Regions from separate parts of the Homo sapiens genome. Here region 1 is linked to region 2. Evidence: fine-mapped expression QTL. A gene starts in region 2. The other region holds a variant in brackets. All regions are shown on one strand. Distances are from middle to middle. Region 1 overlaps WNK2 (WNK lysine deficient protein kinase 2). Region 2 holds the start of WNK2 (WNK lysine deficient protein kinase 2).

Region 1 (4,243 bases), 82 kb after region 2:
GCAGGCTGGAGGGCAGGGCAGCCCGAAAACACCACCGCAGGTCCACGCGTGCGCGCTCCCGGCAGGAGAGGGCCAGCCGGCCCCGGCTTACCATCTTGAACGTGAGTGGGCGGGGCGTGGCGGGGGTGTGGTGGGGGTGGGGGCATGGTGGGGGTGTGGTGGGGGTGGGGCCGTGGCGGGGGTGTGGTGGGGGTGGGGGGGAGGGGTACTTGGGGGTGTGTGGGGGTGTGGCGGGTGCACGTGTGGGTACGCCCGTGGTGGGTGCTGATGCTGCCCCTTCCAGGTGTGCAACACTGGGGACAAGATGGTGGAGTGCCAGCTGGAGACGCACAACCACAAGATGGTGACCTTCAAGTTCGACTTGGACGGGGACGCACCCGATGAAATTGCCACGTATATGGTGAGGCTGGGTCTGGGTGGCTTGGCTCCCGGTGTTTCTTGGACACGTGTGGGCCTGAGCAGAGCGCCACAGGTCACATGTCGAGCCTGGCCTTGTGTGGAGGTGTCGGTTGGCCCAGGGGCTTTTCGGGACAGTGCTGACCTTTTACGCCTCGGGCTCTTCCCCACACTGGGCGGAAACCCCTTGGGTTTGGAAGAACAGCTTGAAGGATGTTCTAACCATTCTAAGATGCTGCTCCCTGAGGGCTTCTGGAGCATCTGAGCCCTTCCTCCAAATAAAAGGAAGCCTTGTGGGTAGGTTCCTTGAGTGAGGCACGGGAGGGCATCCCGGAGTCTGATGTCCTGTGGTCCTTGCTTAGAGCTTCCTCCAGCCTCCCCAGCTGGAGTGCGGGCTCTGAGCCCTGACCCATGTCCCATGTGCCCACCCAGCTCTGCCTGCATCTCCCTCTGGAGCCACCCCTCCCTGCCTGTGCAGACCAACCTGAGTCCATGAGCACCTTGTAGGCCTTCACAGCCCCACACCTGTGGTCCCCAGCACCTGAGCCAGGCTAGGAGTGGGGATCGTTTTCGGGCCCTCAGAAACTCTCCAGCTGAAAGCACGCACGAAGAAACATGGAAAGGATGTACATGTGGTCCTCAAATTTCCTGGTGCATCCGTGACTGCCTCCCAGGAGAACATTCTCCCCAGACCATTATTCCTGCATCAGTGAGGTTTAGGGAGCCAGGTCCTAAAGGGGCCAGCAGCACACTGGACAGTGTTGTAGCGCTCACTCCAGATGGCCACCAAGTGCCTGGAGTAGGCCGGCATGAGTAGGGAATAGAATATACCACTCAAGTTAATATCATAGATTGCCCCACGTGCCTGCCTGCGGCTGCTGCATTGCACATCATCAGAAAGCTGCCCCCTTGGGCTGCATCCCCCTGGCCACCCCTGCCCTGGCTTCGTGAAAGCCTCATGTGGGCTTTGCAGGGGGAAGCCCCTGGCTTTCTGCTCCTAGGGAGCAAGTCCCTGCCTTAGTGTCTGCTTTGCAGAGACACCTTGGACAAAGCCCTCCCAGATCCCAGGTCCAGAGCATAATCCCCCGCAGCATTAGAGAAATTCTTCTGACGCTTGCTACAGTGGTCGGGAAGACTTTATTCAGGACTGTGGCAATAAGCGAGAGAGAATGAGTTTAACTCCAAATGCAGCAGAGACCACAGGGGATTGGTAGCAGAGGAGCAGTGTGGTGATGGGTGGCTGGAAAATAGCTAAGAGGAGACATCAAGGTCAGGGATTCTGGAGAAACCCTCGTAACAGGATCCTTGCTGGGGGTGGGTGAGAGGCTTTGTTCAACCTCAAAGGTGGGAGATGAGGAATATGGTCAGATACAAAGGCTGGGAATTCTTTCTACAACTGGCTTAGGCTGAAGACATGATGGGGCCTAGTCAAGCCTAGTTGGAGGGTCAGAGGCG[T/C]GAGCTGCGCTTTGGTCAGGGAGGAGTCTTTGTCAGCAGCAAGCAGCTGGTTCGTCAGCGCAGCACAAACACCAGGTCCTCACTGGGCCACTGAAACTGGAGAACATTTCTTCTCTCATCTTACTGTGTTTTAAACCTGTGTCTTGTATTACTTTATACACATGTGTTTCAAACATGATAAAGCATAATAATAAAGTGAACACCCGTGAAGTTATCACTCAGCCACCAGCTGATGCTGCATGTGCGGCTGACGCTTCCAGTGCTTGCCTGCCCGAGCAGGAAGCCACACATGCGACATCAGCCACATCAGCCTGTGTCGTGTCCACTGGCCCCCTGGTTTTCAGTCTTCTTGTGTGTCTCTGTGTGTGAGTCTTTGTGAGCTGCACACATGTAAGTCCTGCACAGTAAGCAATGGGGCTATCTTTAGCTGTGTGCTTTGTAAAAATAGCATCTTCTCAGCCTTGTTTTTTTCACTCAGCACTCGGATACTCCTCTCATTTTATTGCTTTTTCTGCCATCTTAGTAAACCAAGTCACCTAACATACCTGTGTGAAGTAAGCATGCTACAGATATACAAATTTGGTCCATAAAAACAGCCCAGCAGCCCTCCTCCTCACAGCCCATTCCTATCCCAGGGACAGACTGGCTCCAGAGGTTCGAGTTGAAGGGTGGGTGTGTGGCCTGTGGGACAGGCGCTGTTTAGACAAGCTTCTGCCCGCCCTGTGGACTGTCTTTCTGTGAGTGTGAGGTACCAGCTGTCCCTGAATGTCCCATCAGTGGTTAGAGGTCGGCAGGCCTTGGGTTCATCATTCTGACCATGACGACCTTGCCAGCCCCTTAGTAAAGGTGGAACTGCAGAAGTTTCATTTAATTGGCGTGGATTCTAATGCCAGGTTTTACCTGGACCTTGTATTTTTAGATTTTTATTTTGTTTTCAAGTTAATTTTATTCTCAACATACTTGAAAAGAAACATAATAGGAAAACATTTTCTAGTTGCAAAGGGGTTCTAGTTCAGTTTTGTTTAGTGAAAATTTCACAAAATTGGAACGTTGCTTAAATTCTCGTATGTGGCACTCCAGTCACAGCTGGCTGGATGTTCCAACTTTGGCCACAGTGTACTCCTCTTAGACAACATTGCAGTCACATGTTACACTAAATTAAGTGGTGAATCACGGAACACAGCACAAGCCAGCACTTTGTCTGGAGGTGTATGCAGGTGGTGCTCCTGGGGTTGGGGTCTGGGGTGCCAGGGGAGTGTGGAGCGCAGAGGAGCTCTGCTTTTCAGCCAGCTGTTTATAGTAGGGCAGATGTGCCCATCCTAGAAGGGATCTGAGACCACAGATGCCCCAGGCAGGGCCTAGAGCATCTCGGTGACTGCAGAGGTGTCTGCCTGGGAGGAGGTGCCATGGCAGGAAAGGGGCAGGGTCTGGACCCCACTGGGTGGTGGCACAGGCTGACCTCTTCCATTGGTTATGGTTTTATGAGATGCACAGCATTTTCTCTGCCTGAATGGCCGAGGATTTAGCCAGAGCCGGTGTGAGCCCAGGGCCACATGCCCACTGTGAAAGTTGGAGACTGTGGACATCTCCTGAGCCCCTGGTCTGGAGGCTTCGTGGCATTCAGGCTGTGGTGTGGGACCTCCCCTCAGCCATGACAGGAGCTGCTCGTTGGACATCAGGCCACGCTTGCCTGTGTGCCCGGGCCATAGTTGAAGGTCAAAGCCTGAGGCTGGGAGAGCAGGGGGTGCGCAGACCGACAGGTGACATATGGCCATCCTGCTATAACCTTCCCGTCCCCCTGTTGCTTTCTGTCCCCCACAACCTCCTGCTGGCTGGAACCTTTGCCTTCAAATCCATCCTTCTTGTCTGTCATGACTGCCTGGGCACCTGTGCCCAGATGGACCCCCTCCCCTCTTCCCAGTCCCCGTCCTCGGCCCCCTGCATCCTATGCACTTACCTGTTCTGAAGATGGCTGGACCGGCCTCAGGGTCTGTAACCAGCTCCAGCTGGGGCAGGGCATTGCTGGCCCAGGTCCCATGCTTGGAGGAGGGAGTTGCTTCTCAAGATGAGGCTGCTCTCCTCCCATCCTGGGGCCATCCATGTCACTTGCTGAGCTGTCCAGCCCCTGTCTTGGGGACTGCACCCTTTCACCATTCTTCCCTTGGGGCCTGGTACAGGGTAGACATCCGTCAATCCAGATGAAGACCTAGGGTGGTCTTGGCCTTGCAGCTGGTCCTCACTGGCAGTATGTCCCTTTGCAGGTGGAGCATGACTTTATCCTGCAGGCCGAGCGGGAAACGTTCATCGAGCAGATGAAGGATGTCATGGACAAGGCAGAGGACATGCTCAGCGAGGACACAGACGCCGACCGTGGCTCCGACCCAGGGACCAG
Region 2 (4,243 bases):
CCGTCTTAGCAGCAGGGAGATGGAAGCTCAGAGATATCCAGTGACCTGCCAAAGGGCATATAGCCAGTGCTGTGAAGTCCTGACTTCCAAGGTCTGTCCAAGGATCCCTCAGGCTCCATCTGCCAGGATCCCAGGAGCTGCTCCTGAGCCCAGCCTGAGATTCCTTGCAGAGGAAACTGTGACCTGTCCACTACTGACTTAGCTGTGTACCCTAATGGTCATGGGTTGGCAGAGAGAATGAGCTCTCCACCATGGGAGGTGTGTAAGCAGAGATGCGTGAATTCACCCCAAGGGCTCAGAGAGCACACAGTACTCTCTCAGGGACAGGCTGTCCCCCACTCCCCACAGCCTGGGCTGCTCCCTGCTGATTTGTGGGTGTAGCCATCCTTTCCCACGCATGTGTACAAGTGTGGGTGGGCAGCAGCCATGGGTGCTGATGAACCTTCTCCGATGCTGGCAGGTATTTTGCCCACACACTGCCAGTGTGGCCTGTTGGGAGCAGGAGGAGGCCAGATAGGTGTGTGCTGGTCTCAGAACACGCTTAGCTCTGTCCCATCCTGGTTTTCCCTTGGATAGGCTTGAACACACCCATCATGAACAGGTCTGTGGACTTGGTGCCCTTCCTAGATTGACTGAATCTACAAGGAATTGGCAGCCTTTTAAGGTGGGCAAGTCAGGATGATCAGCCCACTCTGCAGGGCCAGATACTGAGGCTCAGGAAGGACCAGGACTTGCCCAAGTTCACTCAGCTGGTTAGGGGCAAGGTTGGGGGGTCTTTAGCCTCCAAAGGGAAGACAGAAAAGATCCTTTTCCACCCCTGACCTCTACCTGGAAGACTCCTGCCCCAGGAGATGCAACTTAGATCCCTGTCCCTCAGGCCTCTCTGTCCTGCAGAGCTGGCGTCTGCTGTTTGGCCTCCTCCTCGTGTGAGCTCTGGGCTCATGCCAGCGGACTTGAGCCCCGGAATGAATGCCTGTCTCACACGGTAGATTAGATTATATAAATAACAGGCAAGTGCCAAATGCATAGCCCTACACCTAGCACACTATTTAACCACTGGCTCTCTGGGGAGAAAAGTCCTGATTTGAGGTGTTTGCCAATTTCCGCAGTGTAAATACTCCCAGCATTGCTGACTTCAGGCTACAGGGTGGCATTGCTGAACCCAGAGCTGGGAAGGGATGTTCACTGTTGCCCCTCACAAATTAGTTTCAGCCAGTGCCAGTGCCCAGCGGGGCTCCAGGAAGTCCTGCTTCTCTGGGTAACAGTTGGCCTGGCATATTCTTCCCTCTACATTGTGAAGGTGAGATATCGCCTCTGCTGGCTTTTATGCCACATGAGTTATTTTGTGCCAGGGGCTCCAAGGCCTACAGGCCCACAAGCATCTTTTCATCTCTGGAAGTGTGTGTGTATCTGATGGGGGTGCCAGCCCAGTGGGATGGGGACTGAGATGAGAATACTCTGGTATCTCCCTTGTGCCTCAGTTTCCTCACCTAGGATCATGGAGGCTGGGGTAAGGGTGAAGTGTTAGCTCAGGGCATTGCCTGGAGCAGGGCTCAGAACTTAGCAGTATGGTTACTGACACAGGTCACCTGCTGCATTAGGGCCAGAGACGCCCAAGAGAGGGCTTGTCCGTGGGGGTCTAGAGGAGGAAGGAGCTAGAGATCATGGAAGACTTCTCGGGAGAGGTGGCATCTGGCAGAGGTGGGAAGGAAGAACACTTTGGGTCAAGGGGCTTCTGGAAGCCTCTCCATATCCCATCCAAGGCATTCCAGCTCAGCTTCGGTCTTGAAAGTTCTGGGATTTAGAGCATATAACTTCTGCCTTTGGCGCCTCAGTTTGCTCTAGACTGTGAAATGGGCATAATGATCACCAGTGCCTCCCTGGGTGATGATGAGGTCCTCATGGTTCCTGGTGGTGAAGTGAGGGCAGGAAAGGACACGCTGAGCCCCACCAGGCTTAGCCCCAGGCTGGGCTCCCGAGGGCGGCGGTACCCCTGGTCCTTTTCTTCCTAGCCTGCCCATTCTGTCCTGGCACAGGGCCTTGAGGTCTAGCGCGCCGGGCTGCGGCGTGCTGAGGCGTTGAGCCTGCTGCCTCCTCTCAGGAAGAAACGGGGTCCTCCGCAGCTGACAGCCCTGCGGGGCGTTCCAAAGAACTTCAGAGGACAGGAGCGCTACCTCGAGCAAAGAACCGCGGGTGGGAGCCCAGGTAGCCGGCCCGCAGGTGGCCGCGCGCGCCTGCCAGTCAGCCAGCCCGTCCGCAGCCAGGTGGGCGTGCCAGGCCCAGCCCCCTGCGCCGGTCCGGGGCGGGGCGAACGGAGCCCCGCCCTCCCCGCGCGCCGGGTCGGAGCCGGTGCGGGAGCGGAGCCGCGCGAAGCCGGCAGGAGCACGCGGGAGCGCGGCCCCGCAGTGGCCCGGCCCGAGAGAGCAGCGCGCAGGAGCTGGAGCGGCGCCACGGCCCCCACCCCAGCGCGGACCTCGCCCGGAACTCGGACCCCGTCCTCGAAGCGTGATCTCTCCCGCCTCGCACGCCCTGGCCGCCGGGCCGCGGGCATGGACGGCGTCCGCTCGCCCTGTGAGTGCCGAGCCTCCCCTCAACGCCGCTCGCCGCCTTTGTGTGCGCGCCGCGGCGCTGCAGCCCCCTCCCCGCGCGCCCCTCCCGCGCCCCGGGCCCGCGTCCTTTGTGGAGCCGCCGCCGGGCCACTGCCTTCCTCCCACCCCCGGGCTTCCCTATCCCCTTTACAGCTGCCTCCGGGACAGCCTAGCAGAACCCTCCTGGGCCAGGGCTGGGCAGGGCGCGAGATCCCTCTGCCGGCCTCCGGGGCCCTCAGGGACACCCTAGCAGGTCCTCTCTCCCAGGGTTCCAGGGACACCACAGGCCCGTCCCTCTCCGCAGCCTGGGGCTGAGCAGGGCACGGACCCCTCCTCCCCAACCCAAGCCTCTGGTCCCGTCTGCAGCCCCCCTTTCCCAGGGCCCCCAGAGACGGCCCCCGCAGGCTCTCTCCGCGGCCGGGGCTGGGCAGGTTGCGGGCTTAGGGCGGCGTTGTCTCATCCGGCGGCCTGGGCAGGTGCGGCAGGGCCGGCGCTCACGCGGGCCTGTGTGTCCTTGGCCCACAGAGATGGACGGCGATGGCGGCCGCCGAGACGTCCCCGGCACGCTGATGGAGCCCGGGCGCGGCGCGGGGCCCGCGGGCATGGCGGAGCCTCGGGCGAAGGCGGCGCGGCCGGGGCCCCAGCGCTTTCTGCGGCGCAGCGTGGTAGAGTCGGACCAGGAGGAGCCGCCGGGCTTGGAGGCAGCCGAGGCGCCGGGCCCGCAGCCCCCGCAGCCCCTGCAGCGCCGGGTGCTTCTGCTCTGCAAGACGCGCCGCCTCATCGCGGAGCGCGCCCGCGGACGCCCCGCCGCCCCCGCGCCCGCAGCGCTGGTAGCGCAGCCGGGAGCCCCCGGAGCCCCCGCGGACGCCGGCCCCGAGCCCGTGGGCACGCAGGAGCCCGGCCCGGACCCCATCGCAGCCGCTGTCGAAACCGCGCCTGCCCCCGACGGCGGCCCCAGGGAGGAGGCGGCGGCGACCGTGAGGAAGGAGGATGAGGGGGCGGCCGAGGCGAAGCCTGAGCCCGGGCGCACTCGCCGGGACGAGCCCGAAGAGGAGGAGGACGACGAGGACGACCTCAAGGCCGTGGCCACCTCTCTGGACGGCCGCTTCCTCAAGTTCGACATCGAGCTGGGCCGCGGTTCCTTCAAGACGGTCTACAAGGGGCTGGACACGGAGACCTGGGTGGAGGTGGCCTGGTGTGAGCTGCAGGTGAGGGTGCCCCAGCCCGCAGGGGGCTTTCCGCAGGGTCTGTCCGCGAGTGCGTCCTTGGGCCTGTCCTTGCTCCTGCGCCTGGCCTTAAGAAGCCCTGGGGGCGGCGGGGCTCCATGTGTGTCACCCTCTGTGTGGATGGCTGGCAGGATGCATACCAGGTGTGCGGACGGCATGTGGGGCCTGGCTGTGTCCGTGCGCAGGTTGCGGTTTGTGAGTCAGCTGGTGGCGAGGGCAGGCCTCTGTTGTGCGTTTGGTGTAAGTGTGCACGCTGTGGGCGTAGAGAGGGTCCTGGAGAGTGGGCCTCGGAGGCTGTGTCTCTTAGGCTGCTGCTTCTCCAGTCCCGATGACCTACTTTAATGACCCAGGGAGTCTGGACTGTTGTGTCTTTGCAAAACAGTGTGGAGGCTTCAAGGCCCGGTGTGTGCAGTCAGAGTGTTTTGGGGG

What was found. PIP is the estimated chance that this variant, and not a neighbour inherited with it, causes the effect. A credible set is the group of variants that fine-mapping cannot tell apart.
Region 1: its variant is the best candidate, but not a certain one, in a credible set for the expression of WNK2 in esophagus muscle (GTEx, PIP 0.51).

What each region holds. Positions count from the first base shown.
Region 1 is chr9:93,263,634-93,267,876 of GRCh38, forward strand. It overlaps WNK2 (WNK lysine deficient protein kinase 2), which reads left to right. Exons shown (of 30, transcript NM_006648.4): 15 at 1-101; 16 at 284-400; 17 at 4,113-4,243. LOC124902214 (a long non-coding RNA gene) reads right to left here. Exons shown (of 2, transcript XR_007061668.1): 1 at 3,809-4,243; 2 at 1,515-1,947. Among named protein-coding and RNA genes, the nearest start is that of WNK2, 82 kb to the left of the region's middle. The variant T/C (reference allele first, on the strand shown) is at 1,852.
Region 2 is chr9:93,181,815-93,186,057 of GRCh38, forward strand. WNK2 (WNK lysine deficient protein kinase 2) reads left to right here and starts at 2,325. Exons shown (of 30, transcript NM_006648.4): 1 at 2,325-2,571; 2 at 3,114-3,796. The coding sequence starts at 3,116.